Regions from separate parts of the Homo sapiens genome. Here regions 2 and 3 are each linked to region 1. The links come from fine-mapping of genetic effects on gene expression. A gene starts in region 1. Each other region holds a variant in brackets. All regions are shown on one strand. Distances are between the middles of the regions.

Evidence for each region.
Region 2: its variant is fine-mapped to the expression of SHROOM2 in sun-exposed skin (GTEx, PIP above 0.99).
Region 3: its variant is fine-mapped to the expression of SHROOM2 in left ventricle (GTEx, PIP 0.97). The same link has a PIP of 0.9 or more in visceral fat.

The regions. Positions count from the first base shown.
Region 1 is chrX:9,782,034-9,790,563 of GRCh38, reverse strand. SHROOM2 (shroom family member 2) reads right to left here and starts at 4,135. Exons shown (of 10, transcript NM_001649.4): 1 at 3,854-4,135. The coding sequence starts at 4,018.
Region 2 is chrX:9,909,006-9,917,535 of GRCh38, reverse strand. The region is part of intron 5 of SHROOM2 (shroom family member 2); the gene reads right to left. Among named protein-coding and RNA genes, the nearest start is that of CLDN34, 54 kb to the left of the region's middle. The variant G/A (reference allele first, on the strand shown) is at 4,885.
Region 3 is chrX:9,812,829-9,821,358 of GRCh38, reverse strand. All of the region lies in intron 1 of SHROOM2 (shroom family member 2), which reads right to left. It also overlaps the pseudogene EIF5P1. Among named protein-coding and RNA genes, the nearest start is that of SHROOM2, 31 kb to the right of the region's middle. The variant G/T (reference allele first, on the strand shown) is at 5,022.

The DNA of each region.
Region 1 (8,530 bases):
CCTCACCCACTGGTTCTCAGACACCTGGAGAAGCAGCAGCACTCCCTCGTGCAGATGTTGACCGCACACTGCATCTGGGCACAAAAATCCACCAGCAGCCACAAAGTTGAGAGTCACCCGCTCCTGACCCACTGCTGAATTCATCAGGTCCCTCTTTTTCAAAACCTTTACTGATATTTCACAAAGAGCTTGGTTGGCTCTTGGGAGCCAATATAATGGCATATGAGACAAGAACTGATCCCGACCAGGGTGGTCACTCTGATCTCCCCGGTCCTCGGGTCACGAGGTGACTTGGCATGGCCCATAATGCAGAGCCCCCTTTCCAAACCAATAAGTAAGGTACATCAGAGGCGCGGGGCCTCCACTCCTGCCCATCACCAACCACCAGTCTCAGCCCTGTGCCCTCTGCAATCAAGGACTCAGCTAACACTTTACATAAGACACTTGCCACCTGGCTGCACGCCCCCCAAAATATGCCCTGATTCCGTCTTTGGCATTCACACTGGAAAGGACATTTCAAAGCTCTGTCTCCAATCCAGAGAAATGTTCTCAGAGTCTGAAGCCCTGGGGTGGGTGAGTCAGGTGGGGGGGACCTCCAAGCGTCCCAGACCACAGCAGTCTTGTCGCACACAACAGCTCTGGTGCCCAATGGCAACCCGAAAATCAATGGGTTCCCAAAGGAGCTGCCCTTGGGGCTAGGCCAGGCCCAAGTTACTGTCTTCTTTGGAGCTTCGGGCTAAGGCTTCTGGCATTCTTTTTGGGGGAGGGAGCGGACTCTAAGAAATAGTGAACAGGAGAGGCTGGGGCTTCATTCCTTCCCTCCCTTAACAAACATTCCTGAGGCCACAGGGGGCTGCTGACACCCAGCTGGTGTATTTAACGCTTCCTCATGAATCCCCCAAACAGCTTTGTGGAATTCAAGCCACTCTAGTGACATTTTAGAAATCAGTCCCCTCCCCTCCCCCCACTGAAGACTTCCACTGGTTGAATGGATGGGAACAGAAACATGCAAAAAACCCACCAGGATCACATATATCCACCATCTCTACTTCCGTTACATAGATTCCTACAGCATGGATGTTATTCCTGCCCCCTCTCTAACAACAGCATGGAAATATGGGTTTGAGTGCATTTTTTCCACCAACTGTAGCAAAATTTCAAGGCAGAAATCAGCAGAAACGTACTGAGGAGTGATGAATCCTGTCGCCATCTGTCAGCGGAGGTTCTGCTGGGCTTCATGCATGCACCCCAAATTCCAAGAATGCTACTCCTCTGAAGTTGGTATCCCTTTAGCTTCAAACTAGACCCAGAGAGTAGTCAGTCCTGATTCTGAACAGCCACTGTGGATGCCCATAAAACACAGCACTTGGGAGTTCCTGCTTCAATTTCCTTTCTCCAGCTACAAAAAATGCAGATGAAGCAAGTATTTGTTTGAGTTTGACTATGTAAATAAAGCCTATTCTCAGGGCCAACGCGTGGGAGGAAAACAGCTCTCCATGCAAACACTGGCAATGCCAGAGGCCTCTAAACACACCACCCTAAAGGCCAGTCTATTCAAAAAGAAACAGAAGTTTTAAGAGCAAGAATCCTTTAAGAGCAAAGGTGATATATGGTTAATCTAACAAAAGAGATTCAAAACCAGGCTAATTTTGCCCCCAGAGGACATTTGGCAATGTCTGGAGACATTTTTGTCATCACACCTGGAGAGAGGTGACAGTAGCATCAAGCAGGTAGAGGCTGGGGAGGCTGCTGAGCATCCTCCAAAGCACAGGGCAGCCCCACAGCAAAGAGATTCAGCTCACAAAGTCCCCAATGCCAAGGCTGGCAAACCCTCACCTAACCGATGTGACGAAGGTATTCAATATGGCATTGCAGGAGATCCCAGACCCAAGCAGATGGCACTGACTGAAGGGGAGCAGCAGGCTTGAACACTGGGGCCAGAGTCTGATTCTTAGGGCCTTTCCCAGGACTCAACAGTTTGTGACCTCAGGATACACCATTTGCCCTGCCTGGGCCACAGCTGTTTCATCTATAAAATGGGCTGATAAAATTCCATCTGAAGACCAGGACCGAACCAGCCTTGTTCTTGACACCCCTCCCAGTTCTACTACACGCACTCCCATGAGGCTTTCAAATGATACCCTCATTATCATAAAGAGAAGGTGCGCTCTTACCTTAATGCAAGCTATCCCCAAATCAGAGTCTGCTAAATAGCAAGTGAGTTGTACAGTATTCCAGGGCTCTAATATGTAACTATTTAATTACAAGTGGAAAAAAAAAAACGATTAGAAGAGCTATTTTTTAATGAGCCCCAGTGACTTTTCAGTAGCTTTTGGGAGAGGAAGATTCAAAGCTTGGATTAATCCACATTCTGAGCCAAGCGCAGTGGCTCATGCCTGTAATGCCAGGACTTTGGGAGGCAGAGGAGTTCGAGACCAGCCTGGGCAAAATGGTGAAACTCCCCGTTTCTACAAAAAATTTTAAAAAATTAACCAGGCATGGTGGCGCACATCTGTGGTCCCAGCTACTCAGGAGGCTGACAGAACAAGACCCTGTCTCAAAAAAAAAAAAGAAGAAAGAAAGAAAGAAAAGAAAAGAAATAAAAGAAAAAAAAAAGAGGAGTGTTCTGGCTGGGCAGAGTATACACACTTTATGACTGTCCACCATGTTTCCAAAGAAGCCAGTGTGATAAAAGATTACACATTGGTCAAATTTATAACAATGGCAACCTCTTTCCTGAGTTCAACAAAAATTTAGTGCAAAGCTAAACAAGGCTTCTCCAAATCCCTCCACAAAGTTTTGTAATCATAAAAGCGACAGAAAATATAGAATGGAAGACGCTGGTGTCTCATTTGCTATTTGAACAACAAAGCCATCCCACTTCCCAAACTGATTACCAGTGCGGCGGGTTAGGAATCACTTAATTTCTTCCTGCTGTGGAGAGGCAGGAAAGCCGAGAAAACCAGTAAATTATCTTCAAACGCTTCTAGTCGCCAAGAATCTTTACATTTTAAAAGGAACTTCGTCCACACGAAAGGTCCGACTCAACCCTTCCCAGAGAAAATGACCACTACACACTTTTAACTAGAACACAGGGTGACTGGACTGTTGTTTATGTGTTTGCTTTTACAAGTTCATACAGGTTCAACTGGTAAGTTTCCAGATGGATTTTGTTTTGAGACAATAAAATTCAATGTTCTAAAGCAAACCACACACACACACACAACATTCCTGATGAGATACATCTGGAATTTCTTTATTATTATTAGAACTCGGGTCCTGCTCTTAGGAAGCAGGCTTTCAGGTTTCTCTAAGTTTGCGCAGGTATCCAGTGCGCAGTGGATCTGGGACTGGAAGCCGAAAGTCAGTAAACATTGATGGGCTGAAGGGAATCGAGAAGTTGCGCTGGCGACAGCTGCTACTCTGGATTTCGTAGTGATCACAGGCACGGGTCCAAGGGGTGCCGAACCAGGGACCCCAGAGAGGCAAACATAGGTGGGGACGGCTCGGGGACACGTTCCTTCGCTGGCCTCCAGGCAGCCCCGCAGGTGCAGGCCGCCACTGGCGGGCCCGGGAGCGCCAGAGGACCCGGCCAGGCCCCTGCCCGGAGGAGGGAGGGGGAGGGGAAAGGGACTCCGGGCAGGAGCCATTTAAACTCTGCGAGGCGCGGGGAACCGCCAGGATCACACGCCCACGCCGGTCCCGGCGCCCAGGCCCGGCAGGTGACCCCAGCAGACGCGCGCGCCAGACCCGGGGGCGCGAGCCTACCGCCCCTCCCGCGCCCCTACCTCGACGCGCCCCGCAGGGCGGCCAGCTCCCGGCTGTCAGCGCCCGCGCCCCGCGGCCGCCTTACCTTGGTGATGACCAGCGGCTCGCCGTGCTCGCGGCCGCCCTTCAGGGTGAAGCCCCACGGGGCGCCGCCGCTCAGCTGCACCTCCACCAGGCGCCCGCCGTCCGCCGCCCGCGTCTCGGCCTCGGCCAGGCGCTCGGGCCGCGCGCGGGGCTCGGCGCCCTCCATGGCGCGACCGCTCAGCGTCCCTGGCCCGCGCCCATGCACTCCGGGCAGTCCCGGCCGTGGGATCGCAAGGGAGGCTCCGAGCGCCGCAGAACTTGCGCCGTAACTTGGAAAGAAAGTGCCGGCCCGGCGGCGGAGGGAGCCCGGAGGGCTGGCGGGGAGGGGGCGGGGCCGGGGCCGGGGCCGGGGCCGGGGCTGGCGGGGAGGGGGCGGGGCCGACGGGGGGCGGGGCGGGCGCGTTCGGGAGCTCGTACCGCGGGGCCGGTCACGGGGAGCGCGTCCAGAGGTCCAGCCCGCGGCCCGAAGGGTGAGGGACGGGGTCAGGTGCGCGCTCAGGGGCCCACGCGGCCGCTCGTACCGGGGAGAGCTGGAGAGGGGCGCGCCCCGGTTCTCTCGCCCGGTGGAGGGGAGCGGGCCGGGAGGGGCGCTCAGGCGCGCGCGCCGTTCAGCGGGTTCGGGGTCGGGGTCGAGGAGCGCGCGCCCCGGGGCTGGCGGAGCCAGCGCGGGCGAGGACGGGGGCGGAGGCCCCGGCGCCAGGTCGGGCCTTTCCTCCCGCGCCAGAGCTCTGCAGTGCTTCGAAGCTCTGGGCGCCCCCGCCCGCCGGTTGGAGGCCAGGACCGGGCAGGTGAGGCGGCAGGTGAGATGGGCGCGGGGTGGCGTGGCGGGAGTCTCCGGCCTCCTCCGTCTCGGGGCGCGCGGCCCGCCGGCGCCCACACTTTGTTCTCGCGCACCGCGGGCTGCCGCGCAGGTGAGAGCGGAAGCGCCGCGGGAGGCCCTGGTGCCCGCGCTGTGGCCGCTGCCCCGGGGCAGAGGGACCGCCCGTCCCGCGCGGCCCTGCGCGCACTCACACTCTGGACTTAGAGAGCCGGGAAGGGCGCCCCCCAGCAGCCTGAGCCGGGCGCGGGTCCGGCCTCTGGAGGGGCTTGGAAGGCGGGCGCAGAAGGACCGTGCCCCGTTTCCACGAGGGCCTTCCCACCTTCCCGCAGAGGCCTCCCACAGCCACCGCGCAGAAAGCCGTTGCGTCTAGATGCTGTCCCCACTCGCCTAGGATTGGACCACAAGGTCTTCAAGTTTCCCAGGTTTACATCCCCGAAAAGGGGAGGTGGAGGTCTGGGATTGGTGAAAGTTTGCGGACAACATGTGTGCCACCTCTTCCTGCTCGGTTTCAGTTTCCATGAAACTCTGGTCTAAAGTACCTGCATGGATAGGTATTTACATGCTTTGCAAAAAAGCTGTTTTCGTTGCTGTTTCTATACGTAGCTGAAGGCTGGTGAACACCTCTTTTCTCTAAGCAGCTCCATCCAGGCCCTTTTCAGAGGTGACGATGCTGGAGTACGCATCCAGGACAGGCCGGGAGAGCACTGGACAGAGAGTCAAGGGTCCCCGGGTCTGGGTTCTGCCACTGTCAAGCTGGGACAAGAAATCTCAGCTCTGGTCTGTTTCTTCAGAGGTCAAGTGAGAGGGGTGCATTCTGTGGAGGTGTCTCATGCAGCCGATTAAATTCAGAGTCGCAGCTCCACTGGGCACCTGTCATGGCGCTGGGCACGTGGTGACTGCCCCATAATTAACTTCTAACTACAGTCTCTGAATGCCTTTAGTTAGAAGAATGAGGCGATTTTTTCTTTTTCAAAGATTAAACGAAGGCTTAAGGAATGTGCCTCTCAGAATCAAGTCGAGTGTATCTTCACTGTGGTGATGGTCACAGGAGCTGCCAAGTTGATTAAGCTAAATTGCACAGAACTAAATGCACGTGAAACGGGAAATCTGAAAAGGCTTGGTGGATTGTATCAATGTCCATATTCCAGGTTGTGACATTGTGCTGTAGTTTTGTAACGTGTTGCCATTGGAACAGGCAGGTGAAGAGTGAAGGGTGCACAGGACTTCCCTGTATTATTCCTTACCAAGAGGCGAAGCCAGTTGGGTGGGGACTCCGAGAATTTTTCTGTCTTACAAGAGGATTGTAAAATGCACCAATCAGCGCTCTGTGGCTAGCTAGAGGTTTGTAAAATGGACCAATTAGCACTCTGTAAATGGACCAATCAGCGGGATGTGGGTGGGGTCAAATAAGGGAATAAAAGCTGGCCACTGCAGCTAGCAGTGGCAACCCGGTCCAGTCCCCTTCCATGCTGTGGAAGCTTTGTTCTTTCGCTCTTCACAGTAAATCTTGCTGCTGCGCACTCTTTGAGTCTGTGCCACCTTTAAGAGCTGTAACACTCACAGCAAAGGTCTGCAGCTTCATTCTTGAAGTCAGCAAGACCAAGAACCCACCGGAAGGAACCAACTCTGGACACATTACAACTACATGTAAATCCAGTTATCTCACAAAGTTTAAGAAATGGATGGATATGATAAACCAAAAGATAAAGAGCTGTATAAATATACCCAGTGTGCTTATTAGAGTTTGCAGACATGTCCGTCTCCCAAAACAGCCCACTCCCTACCTCCCCACCCCAAGCTGGTATAGACTTCAGTCTAAGCTCTTACCTGGGGCTAAAATTCAGACCACTAGACTCATTATAAAGCAGAGACAGTGATTTCATTGTCTCCATAAATCCAGCATTATTCTATATAGCCCCAAAGTCATCTTTAACATTTTATGTTCACCGTACGTAATCATTGTCAGATTACCCATCTGCCACTTGAAAGGTTTATACTTTTTAAAAGGACTCCCTTGTTCTTAAACTTAGCTAGAAATTTACATCCATCCTTACTAAACAGTGTTTAGCTGGGGTGTTTTGTTTTTTTAATCTTCACATTAAGCATCCATCTCAGGATGGTTGGAATATTTATAAGGCTGCTGTCTATAATGATGTTATGCTGTAAGGGACTGAACCAAGATTTGTGTGGCCTGCTATGAGACAGGTGCCTGCTCAGTCATAAATCCTTTTGTGATATTCTTGGGGTTACTATGGTCTAGGTGCGATGACAGCACTTCTATATTGTGTTTGTTTTGTCATCACAAGACACTGTCAATAATCTTGTGAAAATATATCTTGTGGCTGAAAGGCATCACCCCAGTTGATCAGTCTTGCACCCCCATTGGGAGAGTTTTAGTATGACGTTGAACCAGTGTATGGACTCCTAGTAGATGGCTTTCTTTTCTGAGAACTCACAACTCAGGTGGAATTTTCAGAAGCAGAATCCATTTGTCCATGTTAGTCTTTTGTCCTTTTGGAAAGCTGAGGGGCATGTTTGTTCTGTGTAATTTCTCACTGTGGTTGTTCATTGCTCAGAGAATAGGGTGAGCATATACTCTCTTCTGGACCTGCAAGGAGTGTGACCCTATGAGCGCCTGCCCCGGGGATTCAGTAGCCTTAGGTGTTTGTTTCACTTTTTCTTTTTCTTTTCTTTTCTTTTCTTTTTTTTTCTCTTTTTTTTTTGAGACAGAGTCTCACTGTGTCACCCAGGCTGGAGTGCAGTGGCACGATTATGGCTCACTGAAGCTTGACTGCCCCAGGCTTAGGTGATCCTCCCACCTCAGCCTCCTAAGTAGCTGGGACTATAGGCATATGCCACCATGCCTGCCTAATTTTTTATTTTTTGTAGAAACAGGATCTCACTAAGTTGTCCAGGCTGGTCTCAAACTCCTGGGCTCAAGTGATCCACCCACCTCAGCCTCCCAAAGTGCTGGGATTACAGGCATGAGCCATTGTACCTGGCCACTGTTTCTTTTTCTTTTTTTCTTTTTTTTTTTTGGAGACGGAGTTTTGCTCTTGTCGCCCAGGCTGAAGTGCAATGGTGAGATCTTGGCTCACTGCAATCTCTGCCTCCCAGGTTCAAGTGATTCTCCTGCCTCAGCCTCCCAAGTAGCTGGGATTACAGGCATGCGCCACCTTGTCCAGCTAATTTTTGTATTTTTAGTAGAGATGGGATTTCACCATGTTGGTCAGGCTGGTCTCAAACTCTTGACTTCAGGTGATCCACCCGCCTCGGCCTCCCAAAGTGCTGGGATCAGGCGTGAGCCACCGCACCCAGTCCCCGGCCACTTTTGCTAATCTGAGGTTTATTTCCTATGAGAGAAGAGATAGATGAAACTGAGGATGGTTCTGCTTTCACTTCGTCAACAGTGAATGAATTAATTAATGTAAGGCAAATTAACCAACGTTCAGAGACTTCATTAATAGCTAATCTTCTTTATGAAATACAGCTCAAATTATTTTAGCTTTTTGTTCTAAAAAGAAAAGAGATTTATACTCATTACAAAATGTGGTAGAAGATGGAGTTCCAAAATTTTACTTTCACATTTCAAATAGTGGCTCCGTAGGGTCAAGCCTTCCAGAAAACCTTTTAGTGTGGCATTTTAAAAATGGCAATATTAGCCACTTCCTACTAAACCCGCTGTGTTCCTATTAATTCAGACTGGCACAGGATCAGTCAAGATCAGAGAGCACGAGTGATGCAGTTGAAGGAAATCTGTGGGAAGGGCACACTGACTCATACTGCTAACCCCAGCACTTTGGGAGGCCCAGGTGGGAGGATCGCTTGAGCCCAGGAGCTCGACCAGCCTGGCCAACA
Region 2 (8,530 bases), 130 kb before region 1:
AAACAACAACAACAACAACAACAACAACAACAAAGAACCACAATATTAACTGGTGACCGAGAAGCTCTTTGGTGTTCAGAACGTGTTTCTACATATGTTTATGTGGTCCCCACTTACTTTGATCTATGTATACCCTAAATGATGAAATGTTTAGAAGTGTCTCACGCAGGAGAACAAACACACAACTTGAGTATCAAAATGAACATAAAAACATCACAGTGAGAGCAAATGTAAACAAAAAGCAGAAGGGCACAAGCAGGGGCAAGCACCCTTATGCAAAGAGCAGACCGGACACGAGAATGTACAGAGGTCCTATGGTTGTGCTTCCAATAGGACCACGAGTTTCCTGTCAACCAGAGCAAAAGATGGGAACTACGATGAGTTAGGGTTGTCGGAAAGCTGGGCACTTCTTAATTTTTCCACAGAGACAATTTTTCTACCAGCCTTCCGAGATGGATGTCTACACCTCCTAGGGAATTCATGCTGACAGAGCTCCTGGTGGCTACACCTTCTGCGGCACACATGGTAACAAGAGACCAGTAATGGCAATGTACAACTAACAGAAGCCAGTAGCCACCAAAAGGCAGAACTGGCCACACAGAGGCTCCAGGTGCAAGGGCGACAACGCTAAAATTCAACACACTTGTATGTCAAAAAAGTTGAACTGTAACCACCCACTAACATCTGGAAGGCACACAGCACACGGTAGGGATGTTATCTGCAACCTAAATGACAATAATCAAGAAAGGGCTCATCTTCAGTAGGAAAATGAACACGCGCTGAAGAGTAATGTACAAAAGAAAAAACACAAATGGCTAGTCAGTGCACCAAAAAAGTCTGACTTTGCTAGTCCCTGAAGAAATGCAAGTTAAAAATGAAATAACTTTTTTGCCTATCAAACCACAGAATTTTAAAAATGTCTAATATTGACAAAGTTTTGGGAGAAGTAGGACTGTCCTGGGCGATCGGTGCCCCTAGAGTGTAAATAGTAAGCATACACTTTTTGGAGGGCAACGTGGTGATATTTTCTAGCGCCTGCCTAGCAACTCCATGCCCAGAATTTTATCCGAAGGAAATCAACATGGAAGAGCACAAGTATTTCACTACAGATATCTGCTGCAGTATTATTTACAACGTCAAACACCAACAGCAGCCCTAAATGTCCACAGTATGGCTACAGGGTTGTTAGATTTTAGAATGTCATGCACCATACACATACAAGTTACAGAAAAAGGCAGCTTACATACAGTATGTGTAATATAATTGCATGTGTAAAAACATATTTGCAAGGACTTCAAAGCAGATATACTTCCATGTTCCACAGCGGAGACTCTGGGTGATAGGATTGAGGGTGATTTGTTAATATCCTCACTCTGCTTCCCAGAACTTCTATATATTCTTAATAAAAAGGTTTTAATTAGCAAAATTGATTTTTAAAATAGGAAATGTTAATAAAAACTGTATATCACAGCCTAGAAAGCTGTAATCCCAGATTAGTATAAAACCTCATTCTCAAAAACATATGTGAAGCTTACAAAATCAGGAGTAATTTTGAATTTTGGGTGGCCCTGTGGTAAGATATATTAAAAACTAGTTAGAATAGCATATCAGCTTCATAAATTAAGAGAAAATCTCAATCTTCCTTCTATCACAATTGCACGTGACCCCAAACTGTGGAAACCTTCCATCTCAGATCATTGCCTGCCTATCTTCTAACTCAGCTGAACCAGAATCGGAAATGGATTGTTTATCCAATAGACTTCAGATATTTGTTGTACATGACATTAACTTTATATGCATAATTACTATAGAAAATGTGTGTAGTACACATATGTGTATGGGCATGTATATGTGTATACACACACACGTGTATAAATGTTGAAAATTTTCCTAGAATTTCTAGCTTTTCCACCCTTAATGGCCTCCAAGTACATTTAAGGGTCCGCCAGCTAGATTTTTTTAACGGAATAATTTTATAACAAATTTCATGCAAGTTATACCCAAGAGCACCTTGGCAGTGAGTGGCTTTATGAGGCATTACCACAAGAAGACCGAAGTAGGCTTAGCTGTCAAGGGCATTCCCATCAACAAAGCCCTGTTGACAGAAAATTGAGTTTGCTGACAGAGCTGATTTTATTTGTAAATGGATATCGAAGCTATTACCCCTGTGCGTGTGTCTCATATATATTCATATGCTTTTGTTCCTGGAAATAATGACGGCAAATGAGCAAAACAGTGCAGCCACAAATCACCCCACAGAGCTGGAAATATGACTGAAGGGAAATTTGAGTCCCTGGCTTCTCTCCCTAAGAACCAAAAATGACTACAGCTGGAAGGGACCTGGGAAATAATTTAAACTTCAAGATCAAGGTAATGGTAAACATAAAAAATAAATAATTTTTAAATAAGAAATAATTTAATCTGTGTTCCTTGTTTTATGGATGAAGAAATGGAGGGTCAGAATGCTTAGGTGGCTTCGCAAGCCACACCAACGCAGGCTGAGGAGCACACATGCTGTCTCTGCCTGATTAACGGGTTTCTGTACTTCACTCCCAGAAGTCCAAACTGAAATTCCTTCTCACTGCACTGGCAGCAAACTGGATAAGGGATGTGAAAGTTACTAAGAGAATAACTAGGAATTCTTGGGCCAGTTCTACATTCAGCCTTACCTGGAGGACCTCGACCCATTAGTCCGCAGGAGCCCACCAGACTGAAAATCAGCCATGCTGCCCCACGAGGGCTCTTCACTAACTGGTTGTGAGAATCTAGTCACCCCGCCCCCAGTTTGCTTTATTATAAAATCAAGATGGTAACCGCATAGTAGGACCCAAGGTATACATATGAAGAGGCACTGTGAACTTTCAGGAATTTTAAATAAGGTGTCGGCAAATATGTTTTAAAGGTAAATAAGTAAATAACTCTAGGACCTCTTCAGACATCCAAGGATGTCTACAAGCCTTCCAGAAATGACCCGACTGTCTTACTTGCTCTAGGAAAAGCCAGCTGGAAATCAGTGCCCGAGGACAGGGGAAAGATGGGTGGATACAAGACATCAGCTTCTTCCCACTGCTCCCCTACCCTGGTCTTCTTAAAAATTTAATGCATATGAGAGGTAAAAAATTAAAGGTAGTGTAAAGTAAATGTATTCCAAAGGCCACATAAAATATTCCCTTCCTTCCTCAACCTCCAAAATCCAAAGGCGGACTCTGGAAGAGCAGCCAGCCCATGCAAAACAAGCAGCAGTCAGCGTGCATTCACCAGGGTCATTTGTCCCTCTGGCTGGGCAATAGAGCCTTCCGCAGCCTATATGCTTGACACCAACGTGTATGGTTATTCCTAGCACTCTGTAAAAAACTCTGTGTGTGTTGTTCATGCCTCTGTAGATGAGAATTCCCCTGCAATTTTTTTCCTTAAGAGGTATGGTGTTGGTTTGGGTTGGTGGTGATCGGGGCGGGAGGGGCGGGGGGGCAGGGGGGTGGGCGCAGGTGGAGGCGGAGAAACAGAAAGGGACAAAGTATAAAATGTTTTTGCCACTATGTGTGACAAAAGAAAGAAATGTGCCTCTACCACCCATGCAATGCTTTTCCGCAATAAAATAATAAGAAATACTTGTAGAGTATGACCTCAAAGGTTCTATTCCGTAATGAAAAGAAATATGCCAACCATTCATCAACTTGGTACCAAATCTTCAGTTTTTTTATATGATACATTAAAATATTATTTTCCATTCATCTTATAAATCTTAAGACCATCTACGAGGCAGTAGGCTGTTTACTCGTAAGTGCTACCAGGTAGATTTCCAAAAACCTTTCTTCAAACTCCTTTGCCTTTTTACCTTTCAACTAGCACAACCGCTAAAAACATGCATTTCAAAATGACACCTACTCTTGTGAGTCAGTAAATGCAGACCAAAGAGACAGCCTGTGTGTGCAAACATATTTATGCATCAATTTCCCTGTGAAAATGCCATCGACCCTCTGCACACACAAAAGCCTCCTTTAGTAAAGCAAAGGCATTCCAACCATTTAGAAATATAGCCAAAACTAATCATCTCTTTCTTTTATCACAACATAAAATGGGGGAAAAAGCACATGTATAGTAAAACCCTTAAACTGTCACAATCACACCAAAGAGCAAAATAAAAGAACTGGAAAATGCTAAGAACCATGGTGATTCCATTTTCTCTATTTAAATTATCTCACTGCAATCAGCAGGCTATGTGCAAACGCACTCAGGGAACATTTCTCATGACTAAACATGCACACCTGATTTCGCCGCTTTTTTTTCTTGAGGATGTAGCTGACTCACCATTTTTTCTCAATGTCCGCATTCAATGCCTGTGTAGTGAGAATGCCTGTTTCTTACTGCTACTGAAAAACAAAAGGCAAACGAGGCAGGCAGGTCTTCATGCGATGCTGGCGTCCTCCAGCCAGCTCCCTCGGGGAACCCATCTGCAGAACTCACATGGAGCAAGGGTCCCACATACCAAGGGCTGCAGTCCCATCAGAGCAGATGATGGCTCTACGGCTTCCAGCCTAGAACACGGTGTTAAGAGCACCGCCTTCCAGTTCCAATGTGCTTTCAGCTAACCGTGAATCCCAAAGCTGTAAAAATTGCATGCATCCACGAGGACATGCAGCACCGGCGAGCATGCCCTTACACATACGTGCACGCCTGTGGAGCTCGAGCCGGAATCTGCACCCTGATTTGCATTATTTCTCATCTTCAGGCAGAAGAATAAACAATGAGAACACATTCGCCGACCTCACCAGACCTTACCCACAGCATTGTGAGCTGACAAGCAACCTGCCCTTCAAGATAGCAGAACAAAAGAGCCACTGGGAACTACAAACCCCTAACAAACGGCGCAGGCGTCCTGAAACC[G/A]GTCCCATCTGGGATGAAGTGCCCCGAGAGCAAACGCAGAGGTCCCTTACCCGGCTCTGCTTACCGTGCTGGATGGGAGTTCGCCCAGCTGTGAAGGCAGCGATGTGCTTCAGGGACCCACAGCCCGCCTCTGCTGCAGCTCTCCTCCTGCCTACTGAATGGAGTCCTAAAGCCAAGCTCACAACAGCTGGCCTGTCTGTGCCTGCTGTCTTGTTGATGGGCAAGCTCACGCAGGCTCCGTCAACCTTCACCTCCACGGCTCAAGGCTCCGCTTGCATTTCCCATCACTTCATCAGCAACTCCTTGCCTCAGTGGGGAACATTCCCAACACTTCAGTGCTTAAACCCCAAAAGTCTTGTAATTTAAAACCCCAAAAGGCTTGGGGGGCAGTCTTCCTTTATGTGTGTGTGTGTGTGTGTGTGTGTGTGTGTGTGTGTGTGTGTGTGTGTGTGTCTTGTAATTTAAAACCCCAAAAGGCTTGGGGGGCAGTCTTCCTTTATGTGTGTGTGTGTGTGTGTGTGTGTGTGTGTGTGTGTGTGTGTGTTTGGAGAAAGGATCTTGCTCTGTCTCCCAGGCTGGAGTGCAGTGGTATGATCATGGCTCACTGTAGCCTCCAACTCCTGGGCTCAAGTGATCTTCCTGCCTCAGCCTCCCAAAGTGCTGGGATTATAGGTGTGAGCCACTGTGCCCAGCACTTCTTATATTTTAACGGGGAAATATAGAAAGCCCACTGCACTGATGTTACAGCTTTCTCTATTAAGTGATGCTAGATAATCCTATAACATATGTGACACACAGTTCAACTCCACAACCATAAGGAGGAAAAAGAAAACATTCAACAGCCTATTCTATGTCCATATATTCTTGGGTTGATTACACACTCATTAGGAATGTAACCCATCAAGCAACTAACAAGCGTTTCCGGAACTTTGAGTGTGTGCAAGGCACTCAGGGAAGACAAAGGCAGGCTGGACCTGACTTTCCCAATTAACCATTTCACAATGATCTCTATTTAAAGTCCCTGAGCCCCACCTCCCTCCTAACGCAGCCCCAGACCTCAGCACCACAGCCCCTCCAGGAAGCAGCGTCGCCAGCCACTGCGCCTCACAGCCCTATCCCACCCTCCCACATCCTGGGCTTAGCCACCAGGACGGAGTTTCTCTTTCCAACCTGTTCCTGTCACCCTCTTCTACATTCATAGCAATTACTTCCAACTCTTGCTCATTTCTCCAAATAACATATGCTGCTTTGCAGCCTATACTGTATCACTGCTATTTTAGATTTTTTTCCCCCATATCGACACTTAACCTTAGGCACTGTGCTGATTCATTAATGTTATATCCCTTAAGCATGTAAATAAGTCTGCGAGCAAGGTTGCTCTGCATATCCCCATGATCCAGGGCCGTGAGGTCAGCAAGCTTGGGGGACCTGACACACTTACACTGAGAGGCAGAATGAGGATTCCAGCCTGTGTCTTCAACTCCGAAGCCCGTGTTCTTTCCAGTACTTTTCATCTTCACGTATTACTTTACCAAGTACATGTTACTGTCTCTAAGAGAGGGTGCCATTCACCCCGGGCCATCACCTTTTCTCAAATGCTCAACACATACTGCCAGGCCACACACGGAACAGCAATCAGCTGATGGCTGATTAAATATTTTATTATAGGGCTGGGTGTGGTGGTTCACGCCTATAACCCCAGCACTTTTGGGAGGCCGAGGCGGGAGGACTGCTTGAGCCCAGGAGTTGGAGACCAGCCTGGGCAACATGGCAAGACCTGGTCTCTACATAAAAATTTGTAAAAAATAAATATTTCATTATACTTTTTTTTTTTTGAGATGGAGTCTCACTCTGTCACCCAGGCAAAAGCGCAGTGGCACCATCTCAGCTCACTGCAACCTCCGCCTCCTGGGTTCAAGCAATTCACCTGCCTCAGCCTCCCGAGTAGCTGAGATTACAGGTGCACGCCACCATGCCCAGCTAATTTTTGTATTTTTATTAGAGACGGGGTTTCACCATGTTGGTCAGGCTGGTCTCGAACTCCTGACCTCAAGTGATACGCCCGCCTCAGCCTCCCAAAGTGCTGGGATTACAGGCGTGAGCCACTGCACCTGGCCAGGGTCTTGCTATGTTGCCCAGGCTGGTCTCAAACTCCTGGCTTCAAGCAATCCTCCTGCCTCAACCTCCCAAAGTGCTTGGATTACAAGCATGACCCATTGCGCCTGGCCAGCATCTCATTTTAGAATGGGTTTAGATTTACTAAAAAATTGCAACAGCCAGGCGAGAGCTCCCATATGCCCTCTACCCACTTCCCCCTATTATTAATATCTGACTTACTATGGGGTGTGTTTGTCATAGTTAATGAATCAATATTGGTACATTAATATTAACTAAAGGTCACACTTTATTCAAATTTTCTGTTTAATCAATGTTCTCCTTCTGTCTTTGAACCTCATCCAGGTACTGCATCATACTCAGGCCTGCTTCTTCAGACTCCTCTTGCTGTGAGGGTGCTATAGCTTTAGACTGAACACTTGTGCCCCCCACCCCCAAATTCCTATGTTGAAACCTAACCCCCAGGTGATGGTGTTAGGAGGTGGGGCCTCTGGGAGGTGATGAGGTCATAAGGATGGAGCTCTTGCGAATGGGATTAGTGCCCTCATAAAAGGGACCCCTGAGAGCTCCCTCTCCCCTTCCATCATGTGAGGACGCAGCAGAGAGACAGCCATTTGTGAGCCAGAAAGCACCTTCACCAGACACCGAATCTGCCAGTGCCTCGATCTTAGACTTCCCAGCCTCCAGAACTGTGACAAATACATTTCTGCTGTTTATAAATCATATAATCTTAGGTGTTTTATTATAGCAGCCTGAATAGGCTATGATAGTTTCTCAGGCTTTCCTTGTTTTTGATGACCTTAATAGTTTTGAAGAGGTCTGTTCCGGCATTTTGCAGCATGTCTCTCAATTGGGAACTGTCTGATGTGTTTTTATGATTAGCCTGGGACTTCTGGGAGAGAGACCATGGAAGTGAAGTGCCACTGTTATCCTATGATATCAAGGGGCATGCTGTCAATGTGACTTACCTGTCAACGTTGGCCCTGATCGCCTGGTGAAGTTGGTATACACCAGTTTCTCCACTGTGATGTTCCTCTCCTCGGTCCCCTTTGCCACACTGTACTCTTTGGAGGGAGCTTACTGTTGGCAGCCCACACTGAGCGGGGAGCGGGGGAGCTATGCTCCACCTCCTTAAGGGCACAGTAGCTACATAAAGTATTTGCAATTTTCTGCACAGCAGATTTCTCTATTCTTCATTTGTTAATTTATTCAACCATCCTGCGTATCAGTCTGGGCTGTGGATTCATTTTATATATTGGATTATAATCCACTACTACTTAATTTTGCTGCTTAACTTGTTCTGCCTTTGGTCATTGTTGGTTCCTGTGTCCCTATGACATACCCACACTGTTGTCACCGCTGGGTTTACATATGGGTGTATTTGAGCGCTTATTTTCTGGCACTATAAGATACTCCAGGCTCATCTTGTACAGTCCCTGCCCCAACCCTAGACTCAGTCATTCCTCTGAGGAGCCCTGGTTCCTTTTATTGGAGAAAAGCCTTAGAAAACAAGTTCTGCATGCTGGCTGTG
Region 3 (8,530 bases), 31 kb before region 1:
TGGTTCAGAGAAGTGCTGCTTTAGAAACTGGTTCCGATTTCAGTGTGTATAAAACCATCTGAGCCAGTTGTTAAAATTCAGGTCCCTGGGTCCCAGCAACCGTGATTCCGAGGTTTTGCACATGCTAATTAGAATACAAATGGCAGACAGGCCACATCTCTGTAGAGCAGTTGTACAGAGAACTGCTCTGCTGTGTGGAGCCAGCATTAGCATCACCCAGATGATTCCTAACTTCTGGTTTGGGGTTCGGTAGGTCTAGAGTGGGGTCCAAGAATTTTCATCCCTACCAAGTTCCCAGGGGATACTGATGCTGCTGGTCTGGGAACCATACTTTGAAAACCACTGCTTACCAAGGACAGCAAGCCCCAGCCAGGATGCCAATTACTGCTCAATGCCTGCTTTTGTAAATAAAGATTTATTGGCACACAATCCTTTCATTTACATACTGTCTACAGCAGCGTTCATGCTATACAGCACAGAGGAGTAATTTGGCCCACAGAGCCAAAAATATTTACTCTCTGGCCCTTTACAGAAGTCTGCTGGCCTCTAGTTTGCAGAGGATCATCCAAACATTAGAAATATCCTGACCATGTCTATTGTCAAATTGAGACTTCTGGTACTTCATACAGATTTCAGAGAATGGAGGACGTGGAATTTTATTAAAACCTAAGGATTTTTTCAAAAGAAAAAGGAAGGCCAGGTACAGTGGCACACACCAGTAATCCTAGCAATTTGGGAGACCAAGGCAGGAGGATCACTTGAGCCCAGGAGTTTGAGACCAGCCTGGGCAACATGGTGAGAACTCATCTCTAAAAAAAACCTTTTTAATTAGCAGGGCACGGTGGTGCACCTGTAGTCCCAGCTACTTGGGAGGGCTGAGGTGGGAGGATTGCTTAAGCCCGGGAATTCAAGACTGCAGTGAGCTATGATTGTACCACTGCACTCCAGCCTGGGTGACAGAGCAAGACTCTATTTAAAAAAGGGTGGGGGAGGAATGCAGGCTGCTTCTAGAAGCTGGAAGCTGGCTGTGGCTGGAGCAAAGAGGGTGGGAAAGGATGGAGGGAGGGCCACATGTTGAAGACCCAGTTACAGAAGCCTCTGTGGGCCATAGGATGGTGCCAGCTTCAGTCGACATATGATGAGACTCTACTGGACAACTCTTCATATTTACAAAAAAAAAAAAAATACTGCAATAAAATAAATCTTGAGGCTCGAAAAACATAATCTGAAAAAAAAAAAAAATTTTAAAGGTGGAGGGAGCCAGGCACGGTGGCTCATGCCTGTAATCCCAACACTTTGGGAGGCCTAGGCAGGCAGATCACTTGAGGTCAGGAGTTCAAGACCAGCCTGGACAACATAGTGAAACCCCATCTCTACTAAAAATAAAAATTAAAAAAATTAGCTGGGTGTGGTGGCAGGTGCCTGTAGTCCCAGCTACTCAGGAGGCTGAGGCAGGAGAATCGCTTGAACCCAGGTGGCGGAAGTTGCAGTGAGCCAAGATCACGCCACTGCAATCCAGCCTGGGCAACAGAGCGAGACTCCCTCTCAAGAAAAAAAAAAAAAAAAAAAGATAAACTGGCAGGGTGGACTCGACGTGATGCCTGCTAGGAGCAAGGTGACAGGGAAGCATGAAGGACAGCGCTTTTCAAGCGTGGGAGAGCAGGGAGGCCTTCACCAGAAGAGCTTTTGCGCAGCCATTAGTACCTGTATTGGGGAAACATAGCATACAAGCAAGACGCTTACAGCCTCAGTGGTGAAAATGTTTTCACATTAGAGACCGAGAACTTTTGCAGTTGTTTATGTCATCCCTTCTTCTCCAGACAGAAGATATAAAAAAGCTGCAATCAAAGATCTCTTCATCTTATTGATAAAGCCACCAATAAGCCAAAATGTCTGTCAACGTCAACCCCAGCATATCAGACCAGTTCTATTACAAGATGCCCTGTCTGATTGCCAAGGTTGAGGGCAAAGGAAATGGAATCAAGACAGTTATAGTCAACATGACTGACACTGCAAAGGCGCTTAATTGGCCTCCAAGGTATCCCACCAAGTATTTTGGTGGGATACATTGTTACATTGTGAATGGATCTCAGGAGGCCAATAAGCTGCAAGACATATTGGATGGACTCATTAAAAAATTTGTTCTCTGTCCTGAATGTGAGAATCCTGAAACAGATATGCATGTCAAGCCAAAGCAGCAAACAATAGGTAATTCTTATAAAGCCTGTGGCTATCGAGGCATGCTTGACACACATCATAAACTCTGCACATTCATTCTCAAAAACCCACCTGAGAATAGTGACAGTGGTACAGGAAAGAAAGAAAAGGAAAAGAAAAATATAAAGGGCAAAGACAAGGAAAATGGCTCCGTATCCAGCAGTGAGACACCACCACCAAAGAAATTAGCCCTCCTCCACATACAGTGGAAGAAGAGGAGGATGACTGGGGGGAAGATACAACTGAGGAAGCTCAAAGGTGCAGAATGGATGAAATCAGTGATCATGCAAAAGTTCTGATACTCCATGATGATTTGGAAAAAACAGTTGAGGAGCGGGCCAACATCCTGTTTGATTTTGTGAAGAAAAAGAAAGAAGAGGGTATCATTGATTTATGTGACAAAGAAATTGTTACTGAAGCAGAAGGACTGGATGTTAAAGCCATGGGCCCTCTTGTTCTGACTGAAGTTCTTTTTAAAGAGGAGATTAGAGAACACATAAGAAATACAGGCACCATTTCTTATGATTTTGTCACAACAACAAAAAAGCTCAATGGTACCTTCTTCATGGCTTTACGTGTGGGGTAGCAATGCACCAAGCTCAGCTTATCTCTAAGATTCCAAATATCTTGAAGGAGATGTATGATGTAGATTTTTTAGAAGAAGAGGTCGTCATCAGCTGGTCGGAAAAAGGCCTTTAAGAAACATGTCTCAAAAGAACCTGCCAAAGAGATTCGTGTCAAAGTAGAACCATTTATAAAATGGAGGCAGAGGAAGAATCTTCTGGTGGTGAAGAAGATGAAGATGAGAACATTGAGGTGGTGTATTAGAAGACTGCCAGTGTACCTAAAGTTGAAACTGTAAAGTCCAACAACAAGGATGATGACATTGATATTGATGCCATTTAATGGGATGGATACAACCTAGCTTAACATTGTAATGCTGCAAATTCTTCTCCGTTACCAGCCAGCACAACATGTATGCGCAAAAGCTAAAATGGCTTAACATCAAGCTACACTATACACTAAAAATCCATTACTGTGAGTGGTCTGTAATTAAGCTCAATGAGACATCCAGGGAGTCCATACACACATCAGTGAGCAGATGTAGTTTGCTTATTTATAGCATGTTTCTTTTTGAAAAACTGGTGGTGGACACATTTGGATCACATTTATACAGTTATAAAAATAAAGATTTGATTTTGGCCATTCTTCAGATATTTGGCTCTGAATGACTTAAGCTGAAGTATCTGGCTCCATTTTCAAATGTTACATCATCGTTTCACCTGATGAGCATTCTTGGAGGCTGCTAGATATTGTTAGGTACTGAGGCTGTAAAGAGGTCTTCAACAGGATGTAAGGCAAACTTATTTGTAATTACCTTATTCAGCCCATTAAGAAATAGTACTACATAAGTTTTATCTCTAGTCCCTCCAATTGGCATCTGGTAATGTACACTGCGAGGTAGACTGATAACCAAATGACAGTGCAACATCCTACTGAGAAGTAAATATGACCTGAGTGTCCTAGAAATAATTTAACAGCAGGTTTTGAAACTTAGAGAGTTGTTTTCTCATTTCATGTATACTTGCCCTAAATTGTAGTCTTTGAAGTCGTGTGCACTGCACGTTGGGTGAGCCAGGGAAGTTATTACATTAACAACCATTTTGTGTGTACGCAGTAGTTGCTTCGTACTGAGAGAACTTGCTTTGGGGTACAATTAAAAAATAAACTGATTTTATTTGGGGGAAACAGGGAAGGGTGCACTTACTAGTAAACCTAAGCATTAATTTTCAGCTTTTGCCCTTATGATTTAAATTACAATTCCAAAATGTTTAGACATACTGAAAAAAAAAAAAAAAGTTAGAGGGAGGTTGGGTGTGGTGGCTCACACCTATAATCTCAGCACTTTGGGAGGCCGAGGTGGGTGGATCACTTGAGGTCAGGGGTTTGAGACCAGCCTGGCCAACATCGTGAAATCCTGTCTCTACAAAAAATACAGAAATTAGCTGGGCATGGGTGACGGGTGCCTGTAGTCCCACCTACTCAGGAGGCTGAGGTAGGAGGATCACTTGAGCCCAGGAATTGAAGGCTGCAGTGAGGCAAGGTCACACCACTGCACTCCAGCTTGGGCAACAGAGCAGGACAACGTCTCTTAAAAAAAAGAAAAAGAAAAATATTCAACAGAAAACCTTACAAACCCTACAATGTTATGATGAAGATACTGCCAATGTCCCCTAAATCTGGAAAATTTAAGTTTGTTGAGGGATCCCCCTATAGCACGGGTTTCTGAAATATAACCAGAAATGATGAAGAGGTGAAGGTTTTGATTTTGGTCTGAAGCTGTGTTGTTGCTGGGAAGTGAAGGAGTGGGAAATGACAAGAGAGCAGCTCATGTCTAAGGGGGGACACCGTCCCGAGCACTATCACCCTTGGGCTACAGGGACCCCGCTCGCTGTCTGAACCCCAGAATCAACCCCATGTCCACTTCGCAGGGAGGGTGAAAGACTCCCATGCTCCTGCTCAGAAAGTAGCAGCAGCAGCAGCAGCAGCAGCAGCAGCAGGGGGTAAGGCTGAGCTAACCACAAACTGCCACCACAAGGACCACAAGGATGCCGGTGACCAGGCATGTCTTCCTGAAGGCTCAGCAGACATGCTGACCACCTCTGTCGGAGCCCTGCAGGGGCCCACACCCACCGGGGTCAGGACAAAAATCCTATGACCTTTGAAATTGTGAGTTTTAATTTTGCTTCAACAGCCGTGAAGCCAAAATGACCAATCCTATTCTTTTGATTCATCAGGGATGC[G/T]CCACCCATGTGCTCAGGAAATCACAAGCGCTATGCCTGGGGCACTGAGGTTAAAAAGCTTGAAACACAAGGAAAATACTCAGGAGAATTGAAAACTTGTCCACACAGCAGCATTATTTACAAGAATCACAAAGGAGAACCACCCACATGTCCATCAAAGGATATGAACAAAACGCAGTCCATTCCCATAGGACAATAGCATTCAGACATGAAAAGGAATGACTGATACACACTACAACATGGATGAATCTCCAAACATTATACTGAGATAAACCAGACACAAATGACCACATATTCTACGATCCCACTGACATGAAATGTCCAGAATAGGCAAATCCGTACATAGTAACTGTGATGGTTAATACTGAGTGTCAACTTGACTGGATCGAAGGATACAAACTACTGATCCTGGGTGTGTCTGTGAGGGTGTTGCCAAAAGAGATTACATTTGAGTCAGTGGGCTGGGGAAGGCAGATCCACCCTTAATCTGGTGGGCACAATCTAATCAGCTGTCAGCAAATATTAAGCAGACAGAAAGACGTGAAAAGGAGAGACTGGTCTAGCCTCCCAGCCTACATCTTTCTCCCATGCTGGATGCTTCTGCCCTCGAACATCAGACTCCAAGTTCTTCAGTTTTGGGACTCGGACCAGCTCTCCTTGCTCCTCAGCTTGCAGATGGCCTACTGTGGGACCTTGTGATTGTGGGATGTAATACTTAATAAACTCCCCTTTATAGATATAGATATAGATATAGATATAGATATAGGATATAGATATAGGATAGATATAGGATATATATATATAATGGATCTCTATATATGATATATACATATGAGATATATAGGAGATATTATATACACACACACACACACACACACACACACACACACACACACACACACATAATATGTATATCTATCCTATTAGTTCTGTCACTCTAGAGAACCCTAATACAGATTTTGGTACAAAGAGTGGTTCTAGAGGAACAGAATATTAAGGATGAAGTTCTTTTGTGGGTTGAGGTTTCTGGAGTTGCCTGCTTAATATGATTAGACTCCAAAATGCTAAGGACTCCACTTCTCATAGTATGGAGAACACTGATAGTCCTTGGCATAAACCATTTAGAGAGTTATGCAAAATAAATGCATTTGACACTCCTGATTCACTGCTCATGAGAGGCAAGGAGTTTAGTGACTCTATACATAATACCTTTGACCATATGTGGAAAACCAAGGAATATAATGAAGTTGGTTGGTTGCTCCTAAGTTCAGTGGGCAAAGTGATGAAAGAAAATGATGAACTTGGGGATTCTGTCTCCCGGCTTCAAAAGCAGATACTGAGCCTCAAATCTGCTAAGATTGCCCTGAGTGAGAGTCTTATCTCCTGTAGAGAAAGAGCTGAAATTGTGGAAAAACAGACACATGCTCTTATCATGCGAGGGGCTGACCTTCAATGAAAGATGCATGCACAGCCTCGCCAGGTGTCTACTGTTAAAGTGAGGGCATTGATTCGAAAAGAATAGGACCCTGCAACTTGGAATGGGGACGGTGAGGGAGAACCCTGATGAAGCTGGGGACACTGAGTTTGTAAACTCCGATGAACCTTTTTTGCCAGAAGGAACAGCTTCCCCATCCCCTGTAATGGCAACATCCCTTCCCTGACCCATGGCTGCCATCAGCCTTTCCACCTTTGTCTGAGGAGATAAACCCTGTGCTGCCTGAGGCAACAGTGATGGCCTCCCCTGAGGCAATTGCCAGGCAAAATATGTTGATTCTTCTCAGGAGCCACCCCCGACACCCCTGTTTGCTTCTAGACCTATCACTAAAGTCCCAGCAGGCCCCTAGAGGTGAGGTTGAGAATGTGACCCATGAGGAGGTGCGCTACACTCGAAAAGAACCATTTGAGTTCTATAATTGATATAAACAGAAATCTTGGAGAACAGGCATGGGAATAGATATTAAGGGTATGGGATAATGGTGGAAAGAACACAGAGTTGGATCAGGCTGAATTTATTGATTTGGGCCCACTAAGTAGGGACTCTGCTTTTAATGTTGCAGCTGGGGAGTTAAAAAAAGGTTCTAAGAGTTTATTTGCTTGGTTAGCTGAACTATGGATTAAAAGATGGCCCACTGGGAGTGAGCTGGAAATGCCTGATCTCCCTTGGTTTAATGTAGAGGAAGGGATCCAAAGGCTTAGGGAGATTGGGATGGTGGAGTGGATTAGCCACTTTAGACCTACTCATCCCAGCTGGGAGGGTCCAGAAGACATACCCTTAACCAATGCCTTGCAAAATAGATTCGTGAGGGCAGCACCTGCATCTTTGAAGAGCCCTGTAATTGTTCTTCCCTGTATGTCAGATCTAATGGTGGGAACTGCAGTCACGCAACTACAAAATTTAAATATGATGGGAATAATTGGATCCCGAGGTGGCAGGAGCCAAGTGATGACACTCAACCGTCAAAGGCAAGGTGTGCGTAGCTACCATAATGGACAGCAGAGGCAAAGCGGCAATCAGAATAGTCTGACTCGTGTACAGCTCTGGCACTGGCTAATTAATCATGGTGTTCCTAGAAGGGAAATCGATAGGAAGCCTACTGCCTTCCTACTGAATTTATATAAGCAGAAAACTTCTGGGTCGAATGGACAAAAGACTAATTTGAATTATAAAAACAGAGAATCACAGCCCCTCAATCAATTTCCAGACTTGAGCCAGTTTACAGACCCAGAATCCCTTGAATGAAGAGGAGGCCAGGTCCCCTTGAGGAAGGACCCCACTACATTACGAACAATTTATGTGGTGACTCTTTCTCCCATCCTTCCCCAATGAGACCTCTGGACTTTAGCCAGGGTAACTGTGCATTGGGGAAAGGGAAATGATCAGACATTTTGGGGACTACTGGACACTGGCTCTGAGCTGACGTTGATTCCAAGGGAGCCAAAACGTCACTGTGGTCCTCCAGTTGAAGTAGGGGCTTATGGAGGTATGGTAATTAATGGAGTTTTAGCTCAGGTCCGACTTACAGTGGGTCCCCAGACTCATCCTGTGGTCATTTCCCCAGTGCCAGAATGCATAATTGGCATAGACATACTCAGCAGCTGGCAGAACCCCCACATTGGCTCCCTGACTGGTAGGGCGAGGGCTACTATGGTGGGAAAGGCCCAGTGGAAGCCATTAGAGCTGCCTCTACCTAGAAAAAGAGTAAATCAAAAACAATGTCACATCCCCAGAAGGATTGCAGAAATTAATGTCACCATCAAGGACTTGAAAGACACACGGGTGGTGATTCCCACCACATCCCCGTTCAACTCTCCCATTTAGCCCGTGCAGAAGACAGATGGATCTTGGAGAATGACACTGGATTATCGTAAGCTTCACCAAGTGGTGATTTCAGTTGCAGCTGCTGTACCAGATGTGGTTTCACTGCTTGAGCAAACTAACACATCTCCTGGTACCTGGTATGCGGCCATTGACTTGGCAAATGCCTTTTTCTCCATTCCTGTCCACAAGG